Homo sapiens: one gene and its partners. The protein of the gene in region 5 interacts with the protein of the main gene of each other region in a biochemical or structural test. Each region holds a gene or a part of one and is shown on either strand. Other genes may lie near its edges. The genes, in order: SH3BP4, ALB, RAB8A, PINX1 and TFRC.

The links.
Region 1: the proteins of TFRC (region 5) and SH3BP4 form a complex in vitro, tested with the Homo sapiens proteins (one study listed by IntAct).
Region 2: the proteins of TFRC (region 5) and ALB form a complex in vitro, tested with the Homo sapiens proteins (one study listed by IntAct).
Region 3: the proteins of TFRC (region 5) and RAB8A form a complex in vitro, tested with the Homo sapiens proteins (one study listed by BioGRID).
Region 4: the proteins of TFRC (region 5) and PINX1 interact in a test that uses a peptide from one of them, tested with the Homo sapiens proteins (one study listed by BioGRID).

The regions. Positions count from the first base shown.
Region 1 is NC_000002.12:235,040,974-235,047,028, forward strand, and holds part of SH3BP4 (SH3 domain-binding protein 4), read left to right. Parts: coding exon 1-2,274; intron 2,275-6,055. UniProt on the Homo sapiens protein: May function in transferrin receptor internalization at the plasma membrane through a cargo-specific control of clathrin-mediated endocytosis.
Region 2 is NC_000004.12:73,410,644-73,416,698, forward strand, and holds part of ALB (albumin preproprotein), read left to right. Parts: intron 1-1,352; coding exon 1,353-1,482; intron 1,483-2,776; coding exon 2,777-2,991; intron 2,992-4,391; coding exon 4,392-4,524; intron 4,525-5,612; coding exon 5,613-5,710; intron 5,711-6,055. UniProt on the Homo sapiens protein: Binds water, Ca(2+), Na(+), K(+), fatty acids, hormones, bilirubin and drugs. Its main function is the regulation of the colloidal osmotic pressure of blood. Major zinc transporter in plasma, typically binds about 80% of all plasma zinc.
Region 3 is NC_000019.10:16,125,389-16,131,443, forward strand, and holds part of RAB8A (ras-related protein Rab-8A), read left to right. Parts: exon of another isoform or gene 1-81; coding exon 82-159; exon of another isoform or gene 160-1,599; intron 1,600-2,048; coding exon 2,049-2,138; intron 2,139-2,637; coding exon 2,638-2,703; intron 2,704-4,165; coding exon 4,166-4,216; intron 4,217-6,055. UniProt on the Homo sapiens protein: The small GTPases Rab are key regulators of intracellular membrane trafficking, from the formation of transport vesicles to their fusion with membranes.
Region 4 is NC_000008.11:10,815,876-10,819,375, reverse strand, and holds part of PINX1 (PIN2/TERF1-interacting telomerase inhibitor 1), read left to right. Parts: intron 1-3,500. UniProt on the Homo sapiens protein: Microtubule-binding protein essential for faithful chromosome segregation. Mediates TRF1 and TERT accumulation in nucleolus and enhances TRF1 binding to telomeres. Inhibits telomerase activity. May inhibit cell proliferation and act as tumor suppressor.
Region 5 is NC_000003.12:196,063,609-196,069,663, forward strand, and holds part of TFRC (transferrin receptor protein 1), read right to left. Parts: intron 5,961-6,055; coding exon 5,847-5,960; intron 4,523-5,846; coding exon 4,424-4,522; intron 4,050-4,423; coding exon 3,910-4,049; intron 1,993-3,909; coding exon 1,835-1,992; intron 821-1,834; coding exon 701-820; intron 1-700. UniProt on the Homo sapiens protein: Cellular uptake of iron occurs via receptor-mediated endocytosis of ligand-occupied transferrin receptor into specialized endosomes. Endosomal acidification leads to iron release.

The DNA of each region.
Region 1 (6,055 bases), on a different chromosome or scaffold from region 5:
ACCAACTTCACCACACTGAAGTTCTCCAAGGGCGACCATCTCTACGTCTTGGACACATCTGGCGGTGAGTGGTGGTACGCACACAACACCACCGAAATGGGCTACATCCCCTCCTCCTATGTGCAGCCCTTGAACTACCGGAACTCAACACTGAGTGACAGCGGTATGATTGATAATCTTCCAGACAGCCCAGACGAGGTAGCCAAGGAGCTGGAGCTGCTCGGGGGATGGACAGATGACAAAAAAGTACCAGGCAGAATGTACAGTAATAACCCTTTCTGGAATGGGGTCCAGACCAATCCATTTCTGAATGGGAACGTGCCCGTCATGCCCAGCCTGGATGAGCTGAATCCCAAAAGTACTGTGGATTTGCTCCTTTTTGACGCAGGTACATCCTCCTTCACCGAATCCAGCTCAGCCACCACGAATAGCACTGGCAACATCTTCGATGAGCTTCCAGTCACAAACGGACTCCACGCAGAGCCGCCGGTCAGGCGGGACAACCCCTTCTTCAGAAGCAAGCGCTCCTACAGTCTCTCGGAACTCTCCGTCCTCCAAGCCAAGTCCGATGCTCCCACATCGTCGAGTTTCTTCACCGGCTTGAAATCACCTGCCCCCGAGCAATTTCAGAGCCGGGAGGATTTTCGAACTGCCTGGCTAAACCACAGGAAGCTGGCCCGGTCTTGCCACGACCTGGACTTGCTTGGCCAAAGCCCTGGTTGGGGCCAGACCCAAGCCGTGGAGACAAACATCGTGTGCAAGCTGGATAGCTCCGGGGGTGCTGTCCAGCTTCCTGACACCAGCATCAGCATCCACGTGCCCGAGGGCCACGTCGCCCCTGGGGAGACCCAGCAGATCTCCATGAAAGCCCTGCTGGACCCCCCGCTGGAGCTCAACAGTGACAGGTCCTGCAGCATCAGCCCTGTGCTGGAGGTCAAGCTGAGCAACCTGGAGGTGAAAACCTCTATCATCTTGGAGATGAAAGTGTCAGCCGAGATAAAAAATGACCTTTTTAGCAAAAGCACAGTGGGCCTCCAGTGCCTGAGGAGCGACTCGAAGGAAGGGCCATATGTCTCCGTCCCGCTCAACTGCAGCTGTGGGGACACGGTCCAGGCACAGCTGCACAACCTGGAGCCCTGTATGTACGTGGCTGTCGTGGCCCATGGCCCAAGCATCCTCTACCCTTCCACCGTGTGGGACTTCATCAATAAAAAAGTCACAGTGGGTCTCTACGGCCCTAAACACATCCACCCATCCTTCAAGACGGTAGTGACCATTTTTGGGCATGACTGTGCCCCAAAGACGCTCCTGGTCAGCGAGGTCACACGCCAGGCACCCAACCCTGCCCCGGTGGCCCTGCAGCTGTGGGGGAAGCACCAGTTCGTTTTGTCCAGGCCCCAGGATCTCAAGGTCTGTATGTTTTCCAATATGACGAATTACGAGGTCAAAGCCAGCGAGCAGGCCAAAGTGGTGCGAGGATTCCAGCTGAAGCTGGGCAAGGTGAGCCGCCTGATCTTCCCCATCACCTCCCAGAACCCCAACGAGCTCTCTGACTTCACGCTGCGGGTTCAGGTGAAGGACGACCAGGAGGCCATCCTCACCCAGTTTTGTGTCCAGACTCCTCAGCCACCCCCTAAAAGTGCCATCAAGCCTTCCGGGCAAAGGAGGTTTCTCAAGAAGAACGAAGTCGGGAAAATCATCCTGTCCCCGTTTGCCACCACTACAAAGTACCCGACTTTCCAGGACCGCCCGGTGTCCAGCCTCAAGTTTGGTAAGTTGCTCAAGACTGTGGTGCGGCAGAACAAGAACCACTACCTGCTGGAGTACAAGAAGGGCGACGGGATCGCCCTGCTCAGCGAGGAGCGGGTCAGGCTCCGGGGCCAGCTGTGGACCAAGGAGTGGTACATCGGCTACTACCAGGGCAGGGTGGGCCTCGTGCACACCAAGAACGTGCTGGTGGTCGGCAGGGCCCGGCCCAGCCTGTGCTCGGGCCCCGAGCTGAGCACCTCGGTGCTGCTGGAGCAGATCCTGCGGCCCTGCAAATTCCTCACGTACATCTATGCCTCCGTGAGGACCCTGCTCATGGAGAACATCAGCAGCTGGCGCTCCTTCGCTGACGCCCTGGGCTACGTGAACCTGCCGCTCACCTTTTTCTGCCGGGCAGAGCTGGATAGTGAGCCCGAGCGGGTGGCGTCCGTCCTAGAAAAGCTGAAGGAGGACTGTAACAACACTGAGAACAAAGAACGGAAGTCCTTCCAGAAGGAGCTTGTGATGGTGAGTGCTCAGCAGGTGCCTGGGCGTTCAGGGGTGCTGCTCAGCAAAGCCTTTCCGCCTTCCCAGTGCACATGGGCGTGGGCCGTGGTGTCGTAAGTCACCAGGACAGTGTCTGTGGCTGATGTCCCGCTGCCTGAGATAGGTGCGGCTCAGCACAGCCTTTCGCCTTCCCAATATGCGTGGGCGTGGGCCGTGGTGTTGTAAGTCACCAGGACAGTGTCTGTGGCTGATGTCCCGCTGCCTGAGATAGGTGCGGCTCAGCACAGCCTTTCGCCTTCCCAATATGCGTGGGCGTGGGCCGTGGTGTTGTAAGTCACCAGGACAGTGTCTGTGGCTGATGTCCCGCTGCCTGAGATAGGTGCGGCTCAGCACAGCCTTTCGCCTTCCCAATATGCGTGGGCGTGGGCCGTGGTGTTGTAAGTCACCAGGACAGTGTCTGTGGCTGATGTCCCGCTGCCTGAGATAGGTGCGGCTCAGCACAGCCTTTCGCCTTCCCAATATGCGTGGGCGTGGGCCGTGGTGTTGTAAGTCACCAGGACAGTGTCTGTGGCTGATGTCCCGCTGCCTGGGATATACGTGTGGGGCTTGAAGTGTGCTTGAAGTGGAGATGGGGTTTACGGGGGATCCTGGGGGGCCCCAGACAACCCAAGGACCCTGCAAAGAAGAGCATTCCAGTTACTTTTCCCACCGAATCTGTGAGCTCCAAGAGGGTCCCAGAATGGACCAGATGCGGGTGGGGGCAGAAGGCGGCCTGTGCTCTCGCCATTCAGTTTAGATCTCTTGGGAGCAGATGTGGTTCGTTAGATTCCCAACAGGGTCTCTGACTCCAGAGTCCCACGAACCGCTGCCCCAAAGCCTGTGTTCATTGTAATGTGAGTTTTTCTTGCCTTTGCTTCCTTGAAGCTTCTAACATCTCTGTATTGTTTCCACTTCCCCCTCTGTGTTGGTTTGAGTTGGGGCGAGGACAGCATTTGTTTTGCCAGCACAACCGTGAACTGGAATCCAAAGAAATAAAAGGGGGAAGTAAGCATCAGACTGTGGGTTACGCCCTGGCCCACGAGCCAACCGGGGAGCATTTGCTCAACGCTTTCTTAGCACTGCTCCCCGCAGGCAGCCCCACCGTCAGCAGAGCTGGGTCCTGGCGGTTACCTTGGCTAGGCTTAGCCATATCCGTGTCCTGGCATCCCCAGGGGTGTTTGTGGTGGAGAGTCCCTGTGGACTTCTCCCTGTGATAGAACGGAGTCCACCCCTATCCTCCGGAGAGGGGCGCATTGCTGGTGTTCATTCCTGTGGGAAAACCCTGTGACCTTGGCGTGTGCCGCTCTTCCTCGTTCCTCTGAGCCCGCAGGCTTTCTTGCATCCTAGCTTCTGAGAGGCGTGCTTCTTGGTGCCCGGCCTTTCTGCCACCTCCCCGGCTCCCCTGGATTGAGCCCTGTTTGTCTGGGAGAGCCCAGAGTGTCCTGTAGACACAGGTGTGCAGGCAAGGGTCACATGTGGCACATACCCGGCTCGGCTGCCCATGTTGAGCCAGGAGACAGAAGGGACGCAGCCCGGCAGGAGTGGGGCAGGAGTCGGGTGAGACCCTCTCTGGGTGGCCTGCAGTCGTGTGCAGTGCCAGAAGCATGGAGCCACGAGATTGCCCAGGGGAGGGAGATGGAACTGGAAGCGGCCGTCAGGGGGGCCACCTTGGCAACCAGGAAATCACTGCACTTGGGTGGGGAGGAAGCGAACAAACGCAGCAGGGAAGCCTCCGGGCCCCCATGTGGGGTCACCTGCAGGGAGGGGATGGCCTGCGTCCCTCCCATCAGCCATCACCCATGTGTGATTCAGAGCACACCTCCTGGCTCTCCAGAACCTGGTGCCGGGCCGTGGCCTGGTCTCCTCACGGGTGCACCCAGCACAGTGGCAGACAAAGCGCCTCCATCCCGTGAGAGCCTCTGTGCGGGCGGCCCCGAGACCACAGCCGTGGCTGTGCATGCTGTCGTGGAACCTGACAGCATTGCTGAGCCCAGGACACTCACCTCGACGTTGCACCAGAGGTGGAAAAATGACACAACCAGGAGTACCACACCAGCTGTGGAAAATAACCGCCGAGTAGGTGGCTTTTACACTCATTTTCCTGCTTTTTTATCTTTTTCCAAAAGACATAAATGATCAAACTCTCTCAATTCGATTGGTGAGCATCTCTGGGAGGGGATTTTTTGGTGGGCCTCCCTGTCCGCTCCAGGGAGGGGTGTGTCCTCTGTGCCCGAGTCCTTCCGCTACCCAGAAAGGAGGAAGTGAAACTTGCCCTTGGCCAGGTCGGCTCCCTGAGGCAAGGTTAGATTTTGTGGTGATAAAGTGAAACTGGTTTTGCAGTGTCCCCACCCGCCCCCCACACCTGTGTCAGTCATCATCTTGGCCAAACTTATAGAAACCACAGACGGATTTCTCCCAGGTCGTTTATTAGGAGACCCTGAAAACTGGCTGTTCTATTCCGCTTGTCATCACAGGGCTGCCACGATTTCTGCGGCCTCTGCCACCGCTTTACCTGCCCCTCCCAGAGAGTCACAGCCAGGCCACCCCCTGCCTCTCATTTTTAGCATAGCTTTCGGTGTCCTTGTTCTGATGCCTTGGGTTGGAAACAGTGTTTAAATGATGGGGAAAATGTGAGAGTTTGAGACAGTCAGTGTGCAGGGAGATGGGAAGGAAAAAGGAGTCAAATGAGACCTGGGTTGTTCCTCTCTCCACTGCCTTTAGAACGGGGTCAGCCTTTGCCCCTGCCCCACAAAGTCGTGTAAGATCTGGCCCTACCCATCCCAACCCTGGGGGCCACTGTGCTCTGTGCACCCCTGCCCTGAACACACCCAGCTCGCCCGGCCTCCAGCTCCTGCAGATGCTATGCTGTTCCTCTTCCTGGAGCTCCCTTTCCCAGACCTCCTCATCTCCCTCAGCTGCCAGCTCAAATGCCGTCTCTCCAGGACGTCCTTCTCTGCAGCCCCGCGCACTCCATCATCCTCTGTCTCCATGGTGTTTCTTGAATCAGAAGCGGTTTGTTTTGGCCAGGCATGGAGGTTCACACCTGTAATACCAGCACTTTGGGAGGCTGAGACAGGAGAATCGCTTGAGCCCGGGAATTCAAGACCAGCCTGAGCAACATAGTGAGGCTTCATCTCTCCAATTTTTTTTTTTTAAATCAGCCAGGTGTGTTGGTGTGCACCTGTAGTCCCAGCTACTTGGGAGGCTGAGGTGGGAGGATCACTTGAGCCCAGGAGGTCGAGGCTACACTGAGCTATGATCGCAGCACTGCACTCCAGCCTGGACAACAGAGTGAAACCCTGTCTTGAAAATAAAGGAAGAGAAGAAAAGAAACAAGTTTGTTTATGTTCTTGTGCACTTGTTTCTCATTATTACTCTAACTGAACATAGGTCCCATGAGAGGAAGGGCCCCGGCACATAAGAATCACTGAGGTACTAGATGGATAAGTGATTGAATGAATGAATGATGGATGAATGAATGAATGATGAATGAATGAATGAATGAATGCAGGCCTTGGGCTGGGCTAAGAATCCAAGCGGGAGGCATTCTCACGTGGCCATACCATGCTTCTGTTCTGTGGTTCCATTTCCTCTTTCCATTCTTTTTGTGCCTGTTTTTGATAGAGTCCGTGTGTGAGGCATCCCCGTACCTCTGCCTGCCCCTTCCCAGCAGCATGGCTGTGGCTGCACTCAGAGCACCCCTCTGTCCTGGCCACTTCTCTCCCACCAGAGCCTCTGTCCGTGATGGTGTCAGCTGAAGAAT
Region 2 (6,055 bases), on a different chromosome or scaffold from region 5:
GTCCTAAAAAAAGGGACAGATATTTAAGTTCTATTTATTTATAAAATCTTGGACTCTTATTCTAATGGTTCATTATTTTTATAGAGCTGTAGGCATGGTTCTTTATTTAATTTTTTAAAGTTATTTTTAATTTTTGTGGATACAGAGTAGGTATACATATTTACGGGGTATATGAGATATTTTGATATAAGTATACAACATATATAATCCCTTTATTTAATTTTATCTTCCCCCCAATGATCTAAAACTATTTGCTTGTCCTTTTATGTCTTATAGTTAAATTCAGTCACCAACTAAGTTGAAGTTACTTCTTATTTTTGCATAGCTCCAGCTCTGATCTTCATCTCATGTTTTTGCCTGAGCCTCTGTTTTCATATTACTTAGTTGGTTCTGGGAGCATACTTTAATAGCCGAGTCAAGAAAAATACTAGCTGCCCCGTCACCCACACTCCTCACCTGCTAGTCAACAGCAAATCAACACAACAGGAAATAAAATGAAAATAATAGACATTATGCATGCTCTCTAGAAACTGTCAATTGAACTGTATTTGCTCATCATTCCTACCATCTACACCACCAAAATCAACCAAATTTATGAAAAAAAACAGCCCCAACATAAAATTATACACAGATAAACAGGCTATGATTGGTTTTGGGAAAGAAGTCACCTTTACCTGATTTAGGCAACTGTGAAATGACTAGAGAATGAAGAAAATTAGACGTTTACATCTTGTCATAGAGTTTGAAGATAGTGCTGGATCTTTCTTTTTATAAGTAAGATCAATAAAAACTCCCTCATTCTGTAGAAGTTATGATTTCTTTTCTAAGAGACCTTTAGAAGTCAGAAAAAATGTGTTTCAATTGAGAAAAAAGATAACTGGAGTTTGTGTAGTACTTCCCAGATTATAAAATGCTTTTGTATGTATTATCTAATTTAATCCTCAAAACTTCTTCAATTTAGCATGTTGTCATGACACTGCAGAGGCTGAAGCTCAGAGAGGCTGAGCCCTCTGCTAACAAGTCCTACTGCTAACAAGTGATAAAGCCAGAGCTGGAAGTCACATCTGGACTCCAAACCTGATGCTTCTCAGCCTGTTGCCCCTTTTAGAGTTCCTTTTTAATTTCTGCTTTTATGACTTGCTAGATTTCTACCTACCACACACACTCTTAAATGGATAATTCTGCCCTAAGGATAAGTGATTACCATTTGGTTCAGAACTAGAACTAATGAATTTTAAAAATTATTTCTGTATGTCCATTTTGAATTTTCTTATGAGAAATAGTATTTGCCTAGTGTTTTCATATAAAATATCGCATGATAATACCATTTTGATTGGCGATTTTCTTTTTAGGGCAGTAGCTCGCCTGAGCCAGAGATTTCCCAAAGCTGAGTTTGCAGAAGTTTCCAAGTTAGTGACAGATCTTACCAAAGTCCACACGGAATGCTGCCATGGAGATCTGCTTGAATGTGCTGATGACAGGGTAAAGAGTCGTCGATATGCTTTTTGGTAGCTTGCATGCTCAAGTTGGTAGAATGGATGCGTTTGGTATCATTGGTGATAGCTGACAGTGGGTTGAGATTGTCTTCTGTGCTTTCGTCTGTCCTATCTTCAATCTTTCCCTGCCTATGGTGGTGGTACCTTTCTGTTTTTAACCTGGCTATAAATTACCAGATAAACCCATTCACTGATTTGTAACTCCTTTCAGTCATGCTCTAACTGTAAATGAAGGCTTAAACTGAAGTAGAACAGTTACAAGGTTTTACTTGGCAGAACATCTTGCAAGGTAGATGTCTAAGAAGATTTTTTTTTCTTTTTTTAAGACAGAGTTTCGCTCTTGTTTCCCAGGCTGGGGTGCAATGGTGTGATCTTGGCTCAGCGCAACCTCTGCCTCCTGGGTTCAAGTGATTCTCATGCCTCAGCCTCCCAAGTAGCTGGGATTACAGGCATGCGCCACCACACCTGGCTAATTTTGTATTTTTAGTAGAGGCGGGGTTTCACCATATTGTCCAGACTGGTCTCGAACTCCTGACCTCAGGTGATCCACCCGCCTTGGCCTCCCAAAGTGCTGGGATTACAGGCATGAGCCACCTTGCCCAGCCTAAGAAGATTTTTTGAGGGAGGTAGGTGGACTTGGAGAAGGTCACTACTTGAAGAGATTTTTGGAAATGATGTATTTTTCTTCTCTATATTCCTTCCCTTAATTAACTCTGTTTGTTAGATGTGCAAATATTTGGAATGATATCTCTTTTCTCAAAACTTATAATATTTTCTTTCTCCCTTTCTTCAAGATTAAACTTATGGGCAAATACTAGAATCCTAATCTCTCATGGCACTTTCTGGAAAATTTAAGGCGGTTATTTTATATATGTAAGCAGGGCCTATGACTATGATCTTGACTCATTTTTCAAAAATCTTCTATATTTTATTTAGTTATTTGGTTTCAAAAGGCCTGCACTTAATTTTGGGGGATTATTTGGAAAAACAGCATTGAGTTTTAATGAAAAAAACTTAAATGCCCTAACAGTAGAAACATAAAATTAATAAATAACTGAGCTGAGCACCTGCTACTGATTAGTCTATTTTAATTAAGTGGGAATGTTTTTGTAGTCCTATCTACATCTCCAGGTTTAGGAGCAAACAGAGTATGTTCATAGAAGGAATATGTGTATGGTCTTAGAATACAATGAATATGTTCTGCCAACTTAATAAAGGTCTGAGGAGAAAGTGTAGCAATGTCAATTCGTGTTGAACAATTTCCACCAACTTACTTATAGGCGGACCTTGCCAAGTATATCTGTGAAAATCAAGATTCGATCTCCAGTAAACTGAAGGAATGCTGTGAAAAACCTCTGTTGGAAAAATCCCACTGCATTGCCGAAGTGGAAAATGATGAGATGCCTGCTGACTTGCCTTCATTAGCTGCTGATTTTGTTGAAAGTAAGGATGTTTGCAAAAACTATGCTGAGGCAAAGGATGTCTTCCTGGGCATGTAAGTAGATAAGAAATTATTCTTTTATAGCTTTGGCATGACCTCACAACTTAGGAGGATAGCCTAGGCTTTTCTGTGGAGTTGCTACAATTTCCCTGCTGCCCAGAATGTTTCTTCATCCTTCCCTTTCCCAGGCTTTAACAATTTTTGAAATAGTTAATTAGTTGAATACATTGTCATAAAATAATACATGTTCATGGCAAAGCTCAACATTCCTTACTCCTTAGGGGTATTTCTGAAAATACGTCTAGAAACATTTTGTGTATATATAAATTATGTATACTTCAGTCATTCATTCCAAGTGTATTTCTTGAACATCTATAATATATGTGTGTGACTATGTATTGCCTGTCTATCTAACTAATCTAATCTAATCTAGTCTATCTATCTAATCTATGCAATGATAGCAAAGAAGTATAAAAAGAAATATAGAGTCTGACACCAGGTGCTTTATATTTGGTGAAAAGACCAGAAGTTCAGTATAATGGCAATATGGTAGGCAACTCAATTACAAAATAAATGTTTACATATTGTCAGAAGTTGTGGTGATAAACTGCATTTTTGTTGTTGGATTATGATAATGCACTAAATAATATTTCCTAAAATTATGTACCCTACAAGATTTCACTCATACAGAGAAGAAAGAGAATATTTTAAGAACATATCTCTGCCCATCTATTTATCAGAATCCTTTTGAGATGTAGTTTAAATCAAACAAAATGTTAATAAAAATAACAAGTATCATTCATCAAAGACTTCATATGTGCCAAGCAGTGTGTGCTTTGTGTAGATTATGTCATATAGTTCTCATAATCCACCTTCCGAGACAGATACTATTTATTTTTTGAGACAGAGTTTTACTCTTGTTGCCCAGGCTGGAGTGCAATGGTGCCATCTCGGCTCACCACAACCTCCGCCTCCCAGGTTCAAGCGATTCTCCTGCCTCAGCCTCCTGGGATTACAGGCATGCACCACCATGCCTGGCTAATTTTGTATTTTTAGTAGAGATGGGGTTTCACCATGTTGGTCAGACTGGTCTCAAACTCCTGACCTCTGGTGATATGCCTGCCTCAGCCTCCTAAAGTGCTGGGATTACAGGCATGAGCCACTGTGCCCAGCCGACAGATACTATTATTATTTCCATTCTACCGAGAAGGAGACTAAGGCTCTGATCATTTAAATAAGTTGCCTAAGGTGATGCAGTGATATAAGTAGCAGAGCTAGGAATTGAGCCTTGGTAACTTTAACTCTGGACCCCAAGTCCTTAGCTACTAAGCTTTACTGCATGGGGTTTAGTCAAATTAAGACTTTTGGAATATGAGTTACTTTTGAGATTAGCTTTGTGATATTTTTTGTGCTCATTTGTCCAACAAAGTCTATTTTATTTTCATCTTAATTAGGTTTTTGTATGAATATGCAAGAAGGCATCCTGATTACTCTGTCGTGCTGCTGCTGAGACTTGCCAAGACATATGAAACCACTCTAGAGAAGTGCTGTGCCGCTGCAGATCCTCATGAATGCTATGCCAAAGTGGTAGGTTTATTGTTGGAAAAAAATGTAGTTCTTTGACTGATGATTCCAATAATGAGAAAGAAAAATAATGCAAGAATGTAAAATGATATACAGTGCAATTTAGATCTTTTCTTGAGATGGTTTCAATTCTGGAATCTTAAACATGAAAGAAAAAGTAGCCTTAGAATGATTAACAAAATTTAGACTAGTTAGAATAGAAAGATCTGAATAGAGCAATCTCTAAAAAATTTTGATCTTTTTTTCTCTTTTTCACAATCCTGAGAACAAAAAAAAATTAAATTTAAATGTTAATTAGAAGATATTTAACTTAGATGTAAAGTGAGTTAACCTGATTCCAGGATTAATCAAGTACTAGAATTAGTATCTTATGGCAAATTATAGAACCTATCCCTTTAGAATATTTTCAAATCTTTTTGAGGATGTTTAGGAATAGTTTTACAAGAAATTAAGTTAGGAGAGGAAATCTGTTCTGGAGGATTTTTAGGGTTCCCACTAGCATATGTAATGGTTTCTGAACTATTCAGAATCAGAGAAAACTCATTTTTCCTGCTTTCAAGAAGCTACTGTATGCCAGGCACCATGCACAAACAATGACCAACGTAAAATCTCTCATTTTGGAGAGCCTGGAATCTAACTGGAAAGGTGAACTAATAATAATAATATGTACAATCATAGCCATCATTTATTAAACTTTTATTATATGCAAGGCACTGTTTAATTTCATTAGCTTACCTGGTTTACAGAGCAGCTCTATGAGATGAGTGCCATCTTTGCCCCTATTTTAGGGATAAGGATTCTGAAATGTGGAGATGGTAAGTAAAATTGCACAACTGAAGAATGAGTTACATGACTTGGCTCAAATACTGGTCATTGAACTCCAGAGCCTGAATATTCTTAACCACTTACATGATGCAAGCTCACCAAATAAATAGTTCGAATGTATTGTGACAGAGCGGCATTGATATTCATCTATTCATGTGGCTTTGAGTAGGAAGAAGAAAGGATATCATTCTGACCAGAGGGGTGAAAAACAACCTGCATCTGATCCTGAGGCATAATACTATTAACACAATTCTTTTATGTTTCAGTTCGATGAATTTAAACCTCTTGTGGAAGAGCCTCAGAATTTAATCAAACAAAATTGTGAGCTTTTTGAGCAGCTTGGAGAGTACAAATTCCAGAATGCGTAAGTAATTTTTATTGACTGATTTTTTTTATCAATTTGTAATTATTTAAGACTTAATATATGAGCCACCTAGCATAGAACTTTTAAGAATGAAAATACATTGCATATTTCTAATCACTCTTTGTCAAGAAAGATAGGAGAGGAGAGATAAAATAGTTGATGGGGTGGAGAGGTCTATATTTGAATGTAGTCTAAAAATTGTTCTCTTAAGATTGGAAGTATGTAGGCTGGGAGGGTAAATACCAAATCTTGGTATATCAGAACTGAGCATGTCCCTTGAAGGTTAAGAAATAGTTAATGGGCAAATAGAGCATGGCAATATTTTGTAGAGCAGCAAGTAGTAGG
Region 3 (6,055 bases), on a different chromosome or scaffold from region 5:
CCACTGTTCTCTGGTGCCGCTGAGGCCTCCCTTCCAGAGCCTGCAGCCGATCAGGCACCTGTGTCTTCTCTCCCCGCGCAGGGCATCATGCTGGTCTACGACATCACCAACGAGAAGTCCTTCGACAACATCCGGAACTGGATTCGCAACATTGAGGAGGTGAGGCCCTCCGGCTCCTCCCACTGTCCCTGCTTCAGTCCTTGTCCCAGAGCCCTCTGGTTTACTCATGAGAAGGCCAAGGTGCAGAGACACATACAGGCCACTTGCCCACAGCCTCCTAGTCAGGGACATGGTGGGAGCAGGGACTGAGATGCAAGCAGCCGGCCCCAGGGACCACACACTGGCCTGGCCCCACCCCGGAGCCCCTCGGAGCCCATCCCTCCAGCTAGGCTGTTGGATCTGGCCAGTGTCATGGTTATAAGAGAAAGGATATCCAAGCTTGTGGTCACCATGAGTGTTGGGTGCTTTCTAGAGAAGGAAGGGTCTAGCACAGGTGTGACCCTTGTAGTTGGAGGGTGTGGTGAGCAGGCGTCAGTTGTACTTTGAGCTATATCGGAGCAGGGTGTGACCTGGTACAAACGACCTGTGTTCAGACCTTGAACCATAGAGCAGTGAGAAGTAGGCCAACCCCTCCTCCCCTCCCAAAGCCAGCATCTTCATCTTCTGCTCCCCAAAGAGCTGACCTCACCCCCAAAGCCTTCCTGGCTGCCGGCACCTGCAGCTTTCTATAACTAACCATGTGGGGCTTCAGGTCTGAGGCACAGCCAGAGAACTTTTCCCATCTATAAAACCACAGCAAAAGGGCATATCACTGTCCACCCAGGACTCATGGACCTCCCAGGCCAGGCCGAGAGGCCACCCCATCATTTGTGAGTCATTGCACTGGGCTCACCTCCCCAGTGACCCTGAGAGGGCTGTGCTGCCAAATTTGCCAGTGCAGGGCTGCACCCCAGCTGGGAAAGCTGTCTTCATCCGTGGAGAGGAGGAGAGCCTGGTCTTTGTGAAAGGTCTCTGTTTCTGGCCAGCGGGCAGGAGCCACCTTCTGGTTCATGGGAAGTGAGGCAGGGAGTGGCGCAGTAGGTTCCAGAGACCAAGTCTGAGCTGGTGGAAGAAGACAGCAGTTTCCAGTGTCCCCGTCCTCCAGGAAGCGTGGTCCGCTCCATGGGGACCCAGGGAGACTTGACGAAGGAGCTGCCTTTGGGTATGAGGGCAGAGTTTGGGCAACATCAGACAGGGTGGTGAAGTGCCTGCAGCTGGTGACGGCCTCGAGTTGCGACCACCTCAGGCACGGCCTGTTTCTGGAGCCCAAAAATAGTTGAAATGTCAGGGCCAGGCGAGGTGGCTTATGCCTGTAATCCCAGCAGTTTGGGAGGCTGAGGCGGGCAGATCACCTGAGGTCAGAAGTTTGAGACCAGCCTAGCCAACATGGCGAAACTCTGTCTCTACTAAAAATACAAAAAATTAGCCTGGTATGGTGGCAGATGCCTGTAATCTCAGCTATTCGGGAGGTTGAGGATCGCTTGAACCTGAAGGCAGAGGTTGCAGTGAGCCGAGATCATGCCACTACACTCCAGCCTGGGAGACAGAACGAGACTCCATCTCAAAAAAAAACAAAAAAAAAAGTGTCAAAGCAGAAGGTCCCAGGACAACAGCTGGGGCCTCTTGCAGAGGAGCCAGGGAGGGAAGGAGGAAAGCCAAGGTCGGGGGGTAAATATCTCAGCCTCACTCACCTCCCATAGGCTAGACCCGCCCAGCATCCCAGGTGCGGGGGCTTGATTGATACAGCCATAGAAGCTGCCAGAAAGCATTTCAGAAAATGTGCATTTGCTCAGAGTAGCAGCTAGAACCCTGGCCCCAGCCCTGGCATTGGCTGTGTGACATGGGGCCGGCTGCTTGGCCTCTCTGAGCTTCAGCTTGTCCCTTAGACCAGGCTGTACCTAGCAGTCCTGACCCCACCGCTCTGATTTCTGGGGACAGACTGTGTGTTGGCAGAGGCACCTGGCCTGTGTCATCCGGTCTGATCCCCCGTCTGTCCCCCTCCCTCTCAGCACGCCTCTGCAGACGTCGAAAAGATGATACTCGGGAACAAGTGTGATGTGAATGACAAGAGACAAGTTTCCAAGGAACGGGGAGAAAAGGTGGGCATGGTGGCACAAGGGGCAGAGGGCCTCGGGGTCTTGGGGTTCTTGTGCAGAGGCCTTCCCCTGTCCCTCCTCTGCCCCAGGGGCCTGAGACGAGTTGGTCACCCCAGTGGGGCACGTGCCATGGGATGACAGAAGCACACACCCAGCCGGGGCTTCTTGGGTGCACTCTGCGGGCATCTCATCAAAACCTACCATGGCCCCGCTCCAGACTTTCAAGACCACAGGAGCGGGGAACAGAGCCATAGTTTGATCCCAGCAGGTCCCCGCCACCCTCCCATCTCAGCTGCCATCCCCAGCAACTCCATGCCCTGTGAGGCCCTGTGGAGGGGCATTCACTATAGAATTGAGGGAGTGATCCAGGAAGTCACGCCCACAGCCCCAGCCCTGTTGCTGCTCCCTCTTGGCGCCGGCCCTGCCTTCAGCTCCTGTTTTAGGCAAGCTCAGATGCGCCCGGCGGCTGGTGTGCTCATGCGTGTGCCTCCCTCTCTCACAGCTGGCCCTCGACTATGGAATCAAGTTCATGGAGACCAGCGCGAAGGCCAACATCAATGTGGAAAATGTGAGTCCCGGGCCCTGCTGGGAGACATGGGGCCTGCAGGATCGGCCCCTTCAGGCTAAAGGGGGAGCTGGCGTCCTCCGAGGAGGTCCTGCCAGACGGACCAGCCTCGGGCTCAGGGCTGCCAGTCAGTCCTCTGAGGGACATTTCCTGGGCAGTGCCACGTGCCAAGCACAGGCAGCCCCTGGGAATGTGCCATCAGCAGGGACAGGCACCACAAAGGGCACCTAGGACGCATCTCACGGGCTCTTGGGCAGCCCTGGGGAATAGGCACGGTTTTACAGGTGAGGAAACTAAGGCTCAGAAAGACCCAGCTCTGTGTTTACCCTCTCAGCCACACCACTCACCCTGGAGAGGCCCCTGTCAAAAAAGCCCAGACATAGCAGGGAGCCCTGATGGGACCTGGGCCCATGCCACCCTCCCCTCTCCACGGGGCGACCCCAGCCCTGCGGCCGATCCTGTGATGTTTCCCCATCCTAGTCATGTTTCCAAGGCGGATCTTCCATATCACTCCCGACCTAAAGTCTCTATGCTGACGTGAAGACAAAGGCTAGACTCCTTGCCTGGCGTGGAAGGCCCTCCCTCACCGGCTACAGCTGGTGTTTGCCACCCAGGGCTCAGGCCTTGCCCTCCCCAGGCCACCTGGGCTGCTCCCTTCTCCAATACGTCACTGCATTTCCCTCCTGTGTGCCCCTTTTTCTGCCTGCCAGGTTCCCTTTTCTAGTCAGGGCCTGGCCCTGGGGGCCTCTCCCCAAGAACACCTTCAGTCTCCCCTGGGCCTTCCTCCGCACCCCAAGCCACTCTCCTCTCCAGAACCTCCCACATCATGGGGATGTATGTTGGGATCACGCCTCCCGCCATCTCTGTATGTCCCCTCCTCAAGGCTGTGACAGCAGCTCAACCCTTGGCTGTGCTGGGAGATGAACCTGCTCCCGCTCCCAGCCCTGCCAGGCAAGGACTCCGAGTGAAGCTTGTTTGGCCACAGAGCTGCTTGCCTTTTTCCCTGACCATCAGAAGGGAGGCCAGAGCTGACAGAACCTAGGAGTCAGAGACAAAGAACTGGGCACTCCTAGATCCTTCTGGATTGGTCGGTTAACTGCTGGGTTCCTTTGGACAAGTCACTTGGCCTCTCTGAGCCTCAGTTTCCTCTCTGGCCAACTGAGTGTCGCCCCATCTCACAGGGCTTAGGGGAGGTGGCACATGCGTAAAGTCCCGTCAATGCTAAGGTGCTCTGCGGAAGTGAGAGTTGATGTCAGAGAGTAAGGGTGGGTGGGAGGCAGAGGGAGCCGGGGAAGGATGAGCTGGGGCCGGACAGGCCAGATGAACCCACTGCCAGAGGCGGGCATCAAAGGGCCAAATGGGAGGCCCACGCCTGGGAAGCTGTCTCACCACACCCGCTGTACACGGGCGGCTGAGGACTCAGGGTCCTGCCATCCCAAGGACTCACAATGTGCTTATTCCACAGGCATTTTTCACTCTCGCCAGAGATATCAAAGCAAAAATGGACAAAAAATTGGTGAGTGTGTGTCCTTCCGAGATCCCCGGGTGGATCTCTGGGATCCAGCCATCGTCGTTAGCAGCAGTGATATGACGTGCCCTAGATCCTGCTTTTTAGGGCCCAGCCAGACCCCATGGGACATTGCTGGGAAAGGGGGAAGAGTTTGCAGGTGTGGCTGGGGCATCAGCATCAGGCAGTGCCAGCCTGGGGACGCTGCCCAAGCAGACAAGGCCGTGCCCGGTGAATCCCCAGGCTAGCAGGGAGCACACGGCCTTTTCCATTCCACTCAAGGGCCAGAAAGACAACATGGTGTGCAAGGACAGAGAGCCATGGCTCGGAGAAAAGCTTCCTAGGTCGCTTGGGCAGGGCCAGGGCTGGTGTCTGATAACTGCTGGCTCATCGTCTTGACAAGCATGGCAGATCAAGAACCTGCCCCCGCTCCACCCCAGCCCCAGATGCTACAAGTTGTGACAGCTCTGCAACCTTCATTGTGTCCCAGGGTTCTCTGAGGCCTCCAGGGAAGTCTGCATGAATCCCTACCCATCTACCCTCTCATTCGTTTCTTGCTTTTTTTTTTTTACCACGTTAGCGATTTCCTAGTCCGCTGCGCTCAGTATCAATGGTGCTTTCTTGATGGAATCAAACACTTCCCTGTACTTTGGGGGCATTTAGTGCCTAAACACCGTAGTGACCCTTCCTCCCTCGCCCTGGTTCCAGCAACTGCCCTTTCCCGGCCATGTTACATTGGTTGTCCAATCGAGGAGCACACGGCGCTCTATTTGTGGGTTAAGTCTGGTCACTTGAGAATGCACATAAAATACAAAATGCCGTTCAAGTTTTACATCTGATGTAAGCAAATCTGTTTTGTAATTCTAAGATGCGGTGTGTTGAACAGTGAGGCATGTGATTGATTTAATAGCAGCTCTTTGGCCATTAAATTAAAATGGGAAACAGTTCATGGAAACCAGTGCACTGACCAACAATAATTTGGGATTTTCTTGCAATTTTTTTTCTTCAGTATAATGGTCAAGGTCTGATTCTTTTTTCTTTTAGTTTTCTTATTAGTTAAAAAAGAGATTTTTTTTTTAGAGTCTCACTTTGCCACCTAGGCTGGAGTGCAGTGGCACCATCACAGCTCACTGCAGCCTTCAACTCCTGGGCTCAAGCAATCCTCCCACCTCCGCCTCCCAAGTAGCTGGGGCTATAAGCACACACCACCATGCCTGGCTAATTTTTTTTCTTTTTCTTTTTTTTTGAGAAGGAGTCTCGCTCTGTTGCCCAGGCTAGAGTGCAATGGTGCAATCCCTGCTCACTGCAACCTCTGCCTCCCAGGTTCAAGCGGTTCTTCTGACTCAACCTCCCGAGTACTTGGGATTACAGGCACATGTCACCACGCCCAGCTAATTTTTGTATTTTTAGTAGAGACGAGGCTTCACCATGTTGGTCAGGCTGGTCTTGAACTCCTGACCTCAGGTGATCCACCTGCCTCGGCCTCCCAAAGTGTTGGGATTACAGGTGTGGGCCACCCCGCCTGGCCATTTTTTCTTTTTTAAGAGGCAGGATCTCACTTGTTACCCAGGCTGGACTCAAACTCCTGGGCTCAAGCAGTTCTTCTGCCTCAGCCTCCCAAAGTGCTGGGAAGGGTATGATGGGGTGGGCAGATAAGTGAGAGAGTGGTTGGAAGGGGTGGTATATAGCAGATGGAAAATAGATCTGTTTCTGAAAAACGAATTATCAGTTGTAAGAGAATTGGATGGATGGGTAGAAGATAATGGATGGATGGTTGGTTGAAAGGGAATAAATCGATGGTTGATTTGTTGGAAGGAGATGGTTGGATAGATAGATGATTGGTTTGTT
Region 4 (3,500 bases), on a different chromosome or scaffold from region 5:
AGCCAGGGCCCTTGGTGACCATAGAACAAAAAAGAAGACTTGGTTTATTGATTCCTGGCATTTTTCCAGACTGACAGAAATCTTTATTTCTAGGGTGGTGGTTTGTTTCTTAATAGTAATAATTTTTAGGGAGTCCAGAATTACCAGTGGTTAGAAGTCTCATTAGATGATTCCCTGTGCAGATTGGGACTGAATTCCTGGGTCTTTTAGCCCCTGTCTGCCCCTGCACCCTCAGCAGATGGAAGCAGCAGGCTGGGAAAGGATACCTGGCTTTGGTGCCTGCGCGGACTATGCTGAGTCACGGGATAGGCAGTGGTCACTAGGGAGGAGCCGCTCTGACATCCGGCCGTGCCGGCTGCTCCTTCACAAGGGGCTGCTGGAAAGAGCCATGGTCAGACAGGCTGGCTTCTGGTTGTACCTCTGCCCTCAGTGCTCACCGTGAGACCTGGACTACGCCACTCTTCCTTGTTCACCAAGGACATGGCCTCTGGCTTATCCCAGCCTCCTCTCCAACCCCTCTTCCTTGACTCTCTCAGTCGTCTCCGTGTCCTCAGGAAGAACTAGAATTCCAGTCCCGCGCCTCTTGAACTCCATCTCCTTTGCTCTGCCCAACAGCTGCCCCCACCCCACGATCACACCCTGAGCCTTTGTATCAACTCCACGTCCCTCCCATACCTTGAGATAACCCCCATCTCCCCAGCCCCGTGGGGCTCACGTGCCTTCTGTACTGGCGTTTCCACATCCCTGCACGTTGATCCTCTCTTCTGCCTGCTGCTCACCCACCACCCCCAGCCTTTGCCCTCCCGGACACCCTCTATGAAAATGTACAGTTGAACAGATCAGGGAGGGAAATGTTACTTGTGGGCTTTTGTAGAACTTTAAGAGAATTTATGTGTTTGGTGCAGAAAGCTCTTAGTTGTAAGAGATCAGAGGTTTCTGATCCTCTGGCAGATTTCTGTTTGAGAATTTATTGGGTGTTGGGTGCCTTGAGGTTTTCAACACTGTGTGGTGTTACTTGACTCTTTGGTAGCTAAGTCATGTTAAAGTGAGACATCCACCTGTGTTTGAGGAGCTTCAAAAGCAGTTCCCTAATGCTAGCCCCAGGAAAATCTCTTTTGGTCCAGTGTGTGTAGAGATGATCAACCTTGATGCAACATCGTGTTTTGTGTGAGATTTCCATTAGTCACATCTCTCTCTCTCTTCCAGTTCAGTGTTTTCTTCCAGTGATAAATTTAGGTCCTACCTGTTGGTGAGGTGGTCTTCTACCAGGCCCTGCTCTCCGTCTGTAGCCATAGTTCTCAACAAGGTCGTCCTGGCATTGCCTAATGAGCTTTAAACAAATGCTAATGCCAGGGTTCTGCCCAAGACCGATTAAATTAAATCTTCGGTCAGGGTCCAGGTATCTATATTACAAAAGGAGAAAAATTTAAAAAAAATTTTTTTTTAATTCCTCCCCAATTGTTGCAGCAGTTATTCTGACGTTCAGTAAGGAGCGAGGGTTGAGAACACGGGGATAGCCTGCCATGCAGCTGTACTGAGAGCTTCTGGCTTCCGGGTCGTGAGTAACCCTGAGGACAGAGCTCCTCAAGTCCTGCCGTGTGTACAGGTCTTCCCTGTCAAACTGCAGATTCCAACTCAGGAAGCCTGGGCGGGGGCTGAGAGCCTGTACATCCCCATCCGAGGAGCCCCCAGGTGATACTGCTGCTGACCTGTGTGCCACACTGAGGAGGTCGCGTCTAGGCAGTATTTTCCTTTTGACATGCCTGCATGTGTGCAGAAAACAGAATCTATTTAAATGTAATCACATTTAAGACAAACAGAGTATCTTTCTATAAAGCAAAATGACCTCTACATTTATCTTTGACATCCTTGTGGATGTTCATATGTTAAGTTTGCTTTTATTGAGGTATACCGGTACCTTCCTTGAGTAGACTATTGCTAAGAAACCTTAACCTTGTTAGTTACAACAGCCCTTATAGTCAAAGGCAGGAGGACTTTGATCAGATTTGTTTGAAAATACAACCTCTTTCGGCTCCCATCCTCAGTTGGCGGGAATGTTGTATGTTGTTGCTTCGCTTGACTCTCATAGCTCCGTCGGTCTGGATTTATATTTGGCATTGCAGAGGCCAAGGTGTTGCTGGAGGTCACCTCCCTCCAGAGTCCTGGAAACCGTGGTAGTGCGGGCCACTAAGGTAGCAGTAGCTCTGTGGGTGCTCTAGTTAGGTGCCGATGCTGATCTGTCTTCAGCATCCAGAGTTCCAGAACGTTGGCGTTAACCATGTTCTTGGCTTGGGTAACAGCATCACCCTTGCAATAAGGGAAGCCTACTGATTTTAATTTCTACAGCTCCTGACTGCCATCGTAGAATTCCAATTTTATTAAGCACCTGTGTGCCAAACCCTGTGCTGGATTTTTCTCATTTCATCCTCACAGCAATCCCGTCATGTAAATATCAGTATCTCCTCTGTAGCAGTGAGGAAACTGAGGCACAGAGAGAATTGTTAGAATGCTCCAAAATGGCACACGTGGGCTTTTAAATCTGTGTCCGTCCAATTCCAAAATCAGCCTTTCTCCGATAATACAGCAGTCCTGCCGAAGTTAATGAACTCTTTCTCATTTAACAAAAAATCTACATTGAAGGGGGTTAGTTAGGCCTTAGCAGCTTCTGTTGAGCTTCACCAGAGACACCAGTGGTTGATGCTGTATCGTAACTTTGTGGGAAAATGATTGGCTGTTGCTATTTTGTGGAAAATAATGGTTTAAATTTCAAAACTTCTTTACCTTACCTGTAGTCAGAGGTGAGCTGTTAGGGGTTGACAAGCATGTGACCAGGTGTCCAGGCCAGCCTGAAGAACGACTTGACTTCCTTATTGGCTGGAGGCTGAATTAAGAAAGAGCTTGAGCATCTGGAGCATAGATGTTGTGTTGCTTGTGTATTTTTTCGTCTCTCTATTGAACTGGATGATCTGAATGTATTTATATCTAAGAAACATCTGCAGCCCTTGATTAATAGTCATGAGGGTTTTTTCTTTAACTTTTTATAGATGAACAGGATGTTGCAAAGATAGTAAAGGGGTTCTGTGTACCCTTCATCTGGTTTTCCCCAGTGGTTACATCTTACGTAACTACAGTACAGCATGATGAAACCAGGAAATTGGCATTGGTACCATCTGCTCATACAGCTCTGTGCCCCTTTATCACATTTGTGGATTGTGTAACCATTATTATCTCAGTGAAGATCCTGAACTATTTCATTACCACCAAGGCCTCCCTTGTGCTAACCCCAATCATAGTTGCATACCCCTCCAACACCGCCCGTGACCCTGACAATCACAGCTGCCGACAGAATCGTCTGATTAGGAGTGGAATATCGTGTGTACAGACCACATGGTCTCTCCGTTTGATGCTGAGGCTGCTCAGATCTGCAGGGGTCACTACCCAGTGCTAAAGGCCGATTGTCGTTTCCATGATCTACTTCCTGCACTTAGCCATGCTCAGTG
Region 5 (6,055 bases):
GTGGAAAGTAGGACAGAAAGGCTCAAAAATAAACAAAAGAGGCAGGGCACGGTGGCTCACTAGCAGCATTTTGGGAGGCTGAGGCGGGTGAATCACTTGAGGTCAGGAGACTAGCCTGGCCAACATGGCGAAACCCTGTCTCTAGTAAAAATACAAAAATTGGCCGGGTGTGGTTGTGGGTGCCTGTAATCCCAGCTACTCAGGAGGCTGAGGCAGGAGAATTGCTTGAAGTCGGGAGGCAGAGGTTGCAGTGAGCTAAGTGAGATCACACCACTGCACTCCAGCCTGGGCAACAGAGTGAAACTCTGTCTCAAAAAATGAATAAATGAATAAACAGAACAAAATTTCAATAGCTGTTAGGCCTCAGTACATGAGTAGAGAGGTATGCTACTGCTTTCAAATAGATTGCTTAGGGACTATGATCCACCTTATCACTCTGGATCCACCACACTAAGCACTAGGGCTCAGTAACTCCACTGTCTCAAAGAAACTGGTGATTTCTAGCACAGTTAAGACACTTTATGGAAAGCTGTTTCAAAGGAAAAGGCAGCTACAACAAAAGACAATCTGCCTTGTATTTAAGAACTAGAGTCTAGCATGAGAACCACAGGAATGCAGGCAAAGTGAGCAAAGCACAGTATAACATCTAGAACTGTATGCAGTGCACCAATATTCAAAAGAATCAAAATTTGTACTCTACCTTTTAAGACCATATCTGAGAACATCTGGGCAAGTTTCAATAGGAGAGCTGTGCCTACACCGGATTTTGCAGCTCCAGGGCCCCATGCATCTCTCTGGGCCCCAACTACAACATAGTGATCTTTAAAAAAGAAAAAAGAGGAAGAAAGAACTTATATAATCAGCTTCTAAACTTTTCTAGAATTAGCACATCAGTAGAAAGGTAAAAGCACAGTATATGTATTAAGGATAAAAGAGCCTTACTTCAAATCTGACTAAAAACTCTGGGAATTAAAAATTCACATGAGAATATTAATTTTACCTTACTAGTAGAGCTACTTTTTTCCTACACTACTAATTAAATTTACTGACTACTTAAGTCCAAGGACTTATTTCTTAGTAAGTGTTGGCTGTTTGATTGCATTTAAAGTTAACTCCAGGGACTGGCAAACTACAGCCCGCATGCCCATTCACTACGCACAGTCTGTGCCTGTTTTCTTGCTCCCACAGAGTTGAACAGCTAAAAGAGAGACTGTATAGCCTGGCAAAAGGTTTATTATCTGCCCCCTTAAGAAATTTGCTTATCACTGGTCTAGTCAATAACTTAGAATAGATTTTCTAGTCATAATGGTCAATTTTTAACAAGAATTTCCTAGGGCCTTATTACCTCCCAATAAAACTGACACATAGGCTGGGCGCGGTGGCTCATGCCTGTAATCCCAGCACTTTGGGAGGCTGAGGGAGGCAGATCACCTGAGGTCAGGAGCTCTGACCTCATGGAGCCTGACCAACATGGAGAAACCCTGTCTCTACTAAAAATACAAAATTAGCCAGGCGTGGTGGCGCATGCCTGTAATCCCAGCTACTGGGGAGGCTGAGGCAGGAGAATGGCTTGAACCTGGGAGGCGGAAATTGCAGTGAGCCGAGATCACACCACTGCACTCCAGCCTGGGCAACAAGAGTGAAACTCTTTCTCAAAAAAAAAAAAAAGAAACTAACACATAAACAATTAACTTTAGGACAGACAAGATTGAGCACTTCATAAAACCAAGCCAAGCCAGCATTCCTACACTCGCTCCTTCTCTAGCCACATCCTTAGGAACAGAAAAGAAAACAAAAAAAAAGCGGGGCGGGGGGGGGGGGGGGCGGTCTTTACCTGGTTCTACAAAGCCTTTAATAACTCCAAAGATGTTAAGAATTTTTATCTCTTTCAGCACATTGCTCACAGTGAGCTTCACATTCTTGCTTTCTGAGGTTACCATCCTACATGTAGAGTCTGTTTTCCAGTCAGAGGGACAGTCTCCTTCCATATTCCTAGAATCAGAAAGCAGGCGTAAGTTCTGAGTTATTGTTCCTTGCCCAGGGTTTACTCCTGTCCAGTGAAGTTACAGATTAAGAGGACATATAAACAAAACTTACTCTCAGCCCGGCGAAGTGGCTCACCCCTGTAATCCCAGCACTTTGGGAGGCTGAGGCAGGTGGATCACAAGGTCAGGAGTTCAAGACCAGCCTGACCGACATGGTGAAACCCCGACTCTACTAAAAATACAAAAATTAACTGGGCATGGTGGCATGCGCCTGTAATCCCAGCTACTAAGGAGGATGAGGAGGAGAATCGCTTGAACCTGGGAGGCGGAGGCTGCAGTGAGCCGAGATCACGCCACTGCACTCCAGCCTGGGCAACAGAGCACAAGTCCTGTCTCAAAAAAAAACAAAACAAAACAAAACAAAATAAAAACAAAAAAAAACTTACTCTCTAGTGGTGAACCATTTGCGTCTTACTTTGATCTGCAGGCAGCCAATTGGAAACCATTAATTAAGCAATATTTTAAAACACTTCTCTAACTATGCGCCTTTCTGCCAGACATACTTACGTAGTTTATATTTGGAATACATACCAAGATGGACTCAAAATGAAGTTCTTCTAATATATAAAAGAATATTAATACACTTTTATGTTTCCCAACTGTCACCACTAACAAGGATAGTACACATTCTTAGCTCAGTTATAAAAAATATTCCTCAGCTGGGTGCGGTGGCTCACGCCTGTAATCCCAGCACTTTGGAAGGCCGAGGCAGAATTCCTTGAACCCAGGAGGTGGAGGTTGCAGTGAGCCAGGATCATGCCACTGCACTCCTGCCTGGGCAACAGAGTGAGACTGTCAAAATAAAAAAAAAATCTTGTGCTTCCCCTATCTAATTCCTCTGTGTTACCCAAATAATAGCTGCTCCTAAGGGGGCTTACTTACATAAATATAGGTTGAAACATTATTACTCCCCTACTACATAAGGATAAGATGGGACGCTGGCTTCACAGGTTGGTTACGATTTGTAGGTGGTAGGTAGAATGAGTCAAAAAAATCACCTATGCTAAATGCCTCTTAGCGTTATCAATAGTCATGGTATGTTACACACTCCCCTATGCTAAAGGCCTCTCAGCATGATCAACAGTCATGGTATTTCATATACTCCTTATATACAGATGTTCTTCATTTGAGACTATCAAGTAGAATATATTTTCACTATCCAATTATGTTAAAGAAACAGGATCAGAGAACCTATGTCATACAGGAGATAAATGCTTTCATAAAGGCCTGAAACTAGATCTCCATCCTGTAATAACAGGAAATGATAAATATGTCCACATCCAAATCAAAATTAATGCTACGTACTCTAATGGAACTGGGCTCTGTTTTTAAAGAGAGACACTAACGTTACAGGGAGGATATCCAGAGGAGCGAGCCACAACCATAAATGGTTTCTCTGGAAACCATCATAAGAAGCAAGGCTTCTCAATCTATAGACAAGGTAACTGGAATCATACCGTATTGCTTAGAAGAAAAATCCAGACAAATGGATGTTTCGGGGAATAGGATTTTATCCCAATATGAATTCTAACAGATTCTCTCTACTAACTGAATGGGCTGCTATAGGCATCGTGCTTCAGCACAGAAGTACTTGAGCAGAAGCTATGCCAGGAATCTTGCACAAGGAATTCACTGGGTTTATAAGTCTCCTTATTCTCCTGTGTTTATAAGTCCAAAGTCCATTATTAAGATCTCTTTATAGAGAAAAATTCATTTATATCTGTACCAAGGTAACAGCTAACCATCCTCCAAATTCCCAAATGTGGAAAATTATCATCATGTTTAACATTTTAATCAACATATTACCGTTCTTCCCTAATCATAAAACCTCACTATGCAAGACCGCTTTCAAATAAAAACTTACCCAAACAGCTTTTCTGCAGCAGCTCTGGAGATTGTCTGGACAGGTATATTAGGCAATCCTGATGACCGAGATGGTGGAAACTGAGTGTGATTGAAGGAAGGGAATCCAGGTGTGTAAGGGTCACCTGTCCCCAGATGAGCCTAGGAAAACAAAAGAGCAATTCACTCCATCACATACTTCCTCAAAACTTCTCTGTAAGATTCAGGTTTGGTATAAGGCTGCAGCCCAACCTTAGTTTACCAACTTGAAGCCTCAAAAATCTGAGTGGCTCTACAATGTGACTCCTGTTTTCATGGCATATGGAAATTCTCAAATTCAAGGCACTATTGACAAAGTACTTTTAGCAACAAATAATAAAGCCTCAAAGTCAATGTAATCTATCTTCTTGCTTACTGCTAACGCCCTCCCAGAAAAAAGAGCAGTTAAGGAAGACACAGTGCTATTTCTGCTAATACAGGAATCCAAGAACAACTCAAGGAACTCAAAACGGTGATTTACTCAAGAAATAACTCACATGTCCAAAGAATGAAAGTTCTGCGTTAACAATGGGAAATTTAGTCTGGTCCATGTATATCAACACACCAATTGCATTTAAGCTTTCAGCATTTGCAACCTAAAAGAAAACATATAAAGCTCAGAAAATGAAGATCTGATCATACGAAATGAGAATACATCCTGGACATTATGCTAAAGGCCAAATGGTTACAGAGGACTAAACTTATAATACTTCCAAATATTTCAAATTGTTTATCTGGTAATTTATTAATTGCTTCCTGAAAAATTAACTCACTTGTTTGCAAAATAAGAGTAACGGGCCAGGAGTGGTGGCTCACGCCTGTAATCCCAACACCTTGCAAGGCTGAGGCAGGGGGATCACAAGCTCAGGAGTTCGAGACCAGCCTGGCCAACATGGTGAAACCCTGTCTCTACTAAAAATACAAAAATTAACTGGGCGCAGTGGCTGGCGCCTGTATTCCCAGCTATTTGGGAAGCTGAGGCAGGAGAATCGCTTGAAACCATAAGGCAGAGGTTGCAGTGAGCCAAAATTGCGCCACTGCACTCCAGCCTGGACAAAAGAGCAAAACTCCCTCTCAAAAAAAAAAAAAAAAAAAAAAAAAGAATAACAAAGGCCAGGAGTGGTGGCTCACACCTGTAATCCCAGCAATCTGGGAGGCCAAGGCAGGTGGATCACCTGACGTCAGGAGTTCAAGACCAGCCAGGCCAACGTCGTGAAACCCTGTCTCTACTAAAAATGCAAAAATTAGCCAGGCATGGTGGTGGTGGGCACCTGTAATCCCAGCTACTCAGAAGGCTGAGGCAGGAGCATCACTTGAACCTGGGAGGCGGAGGTTGCAGTGAGCTGAGATCACGCCACTGCACTCCAGCCAGGGTGACAAGAGACTCCGTCTCAAAAAAAAAAAAAAAAAAGAAAAGAAAAATAACAAAAACCCATCTAAGACAACCACTTTTTTGAGTCTCACTGTCACTCAGGCTGGAGTGGCACGAGTCACATCTCACAACCTCCAGGGCTCAAGCAGTCCTCCCACCTCAGCCTCCTAAAGTGTTGGGATTACAGGTGTGAGCCCTGCCACTTTTTTTAAAAATGCAGAAATCACCACTGTCTTTTGATATGTTCCACTCTAGTTCCTTGTGTATGTTTGGCTATTAATTTTCCTTTTTATAAAACATGCTTTTAGCTGAATTCTGTATATGCGTAAAACTGAGTTATACAGAGAAATAGCTTTCACTTAAGCACTTCTGATTAGGTAAGTGGAACTTACTTCATTTGTTGAGCATTTTAATAAATTATATTATCTGGTATGAGAGTTTAAGATTGCTGATTTTCAGAATGTAAGAATATTAACAAGAAATATCACTTACCTGAAGAGTAAGATACCAAAAGTACTGTATTTAATATTATAATAACTCATACTCACCTTTTCTGCAAAGGTGATTTTCCCTGCTCTGACAATCACTATAGATCCATTCACAGGAGTGTATAAATCCTCAAAATCTTTTTTAGTACCAAAATTAGCATGGACCAGTTTACCCTAGAACAAAGACATTAGATTTAATGAGCATTATGGTATCGGAACAGCTCTAAAATCTTGAGACAGAAGAGTGTTATAGATCAAACCTAAGACAG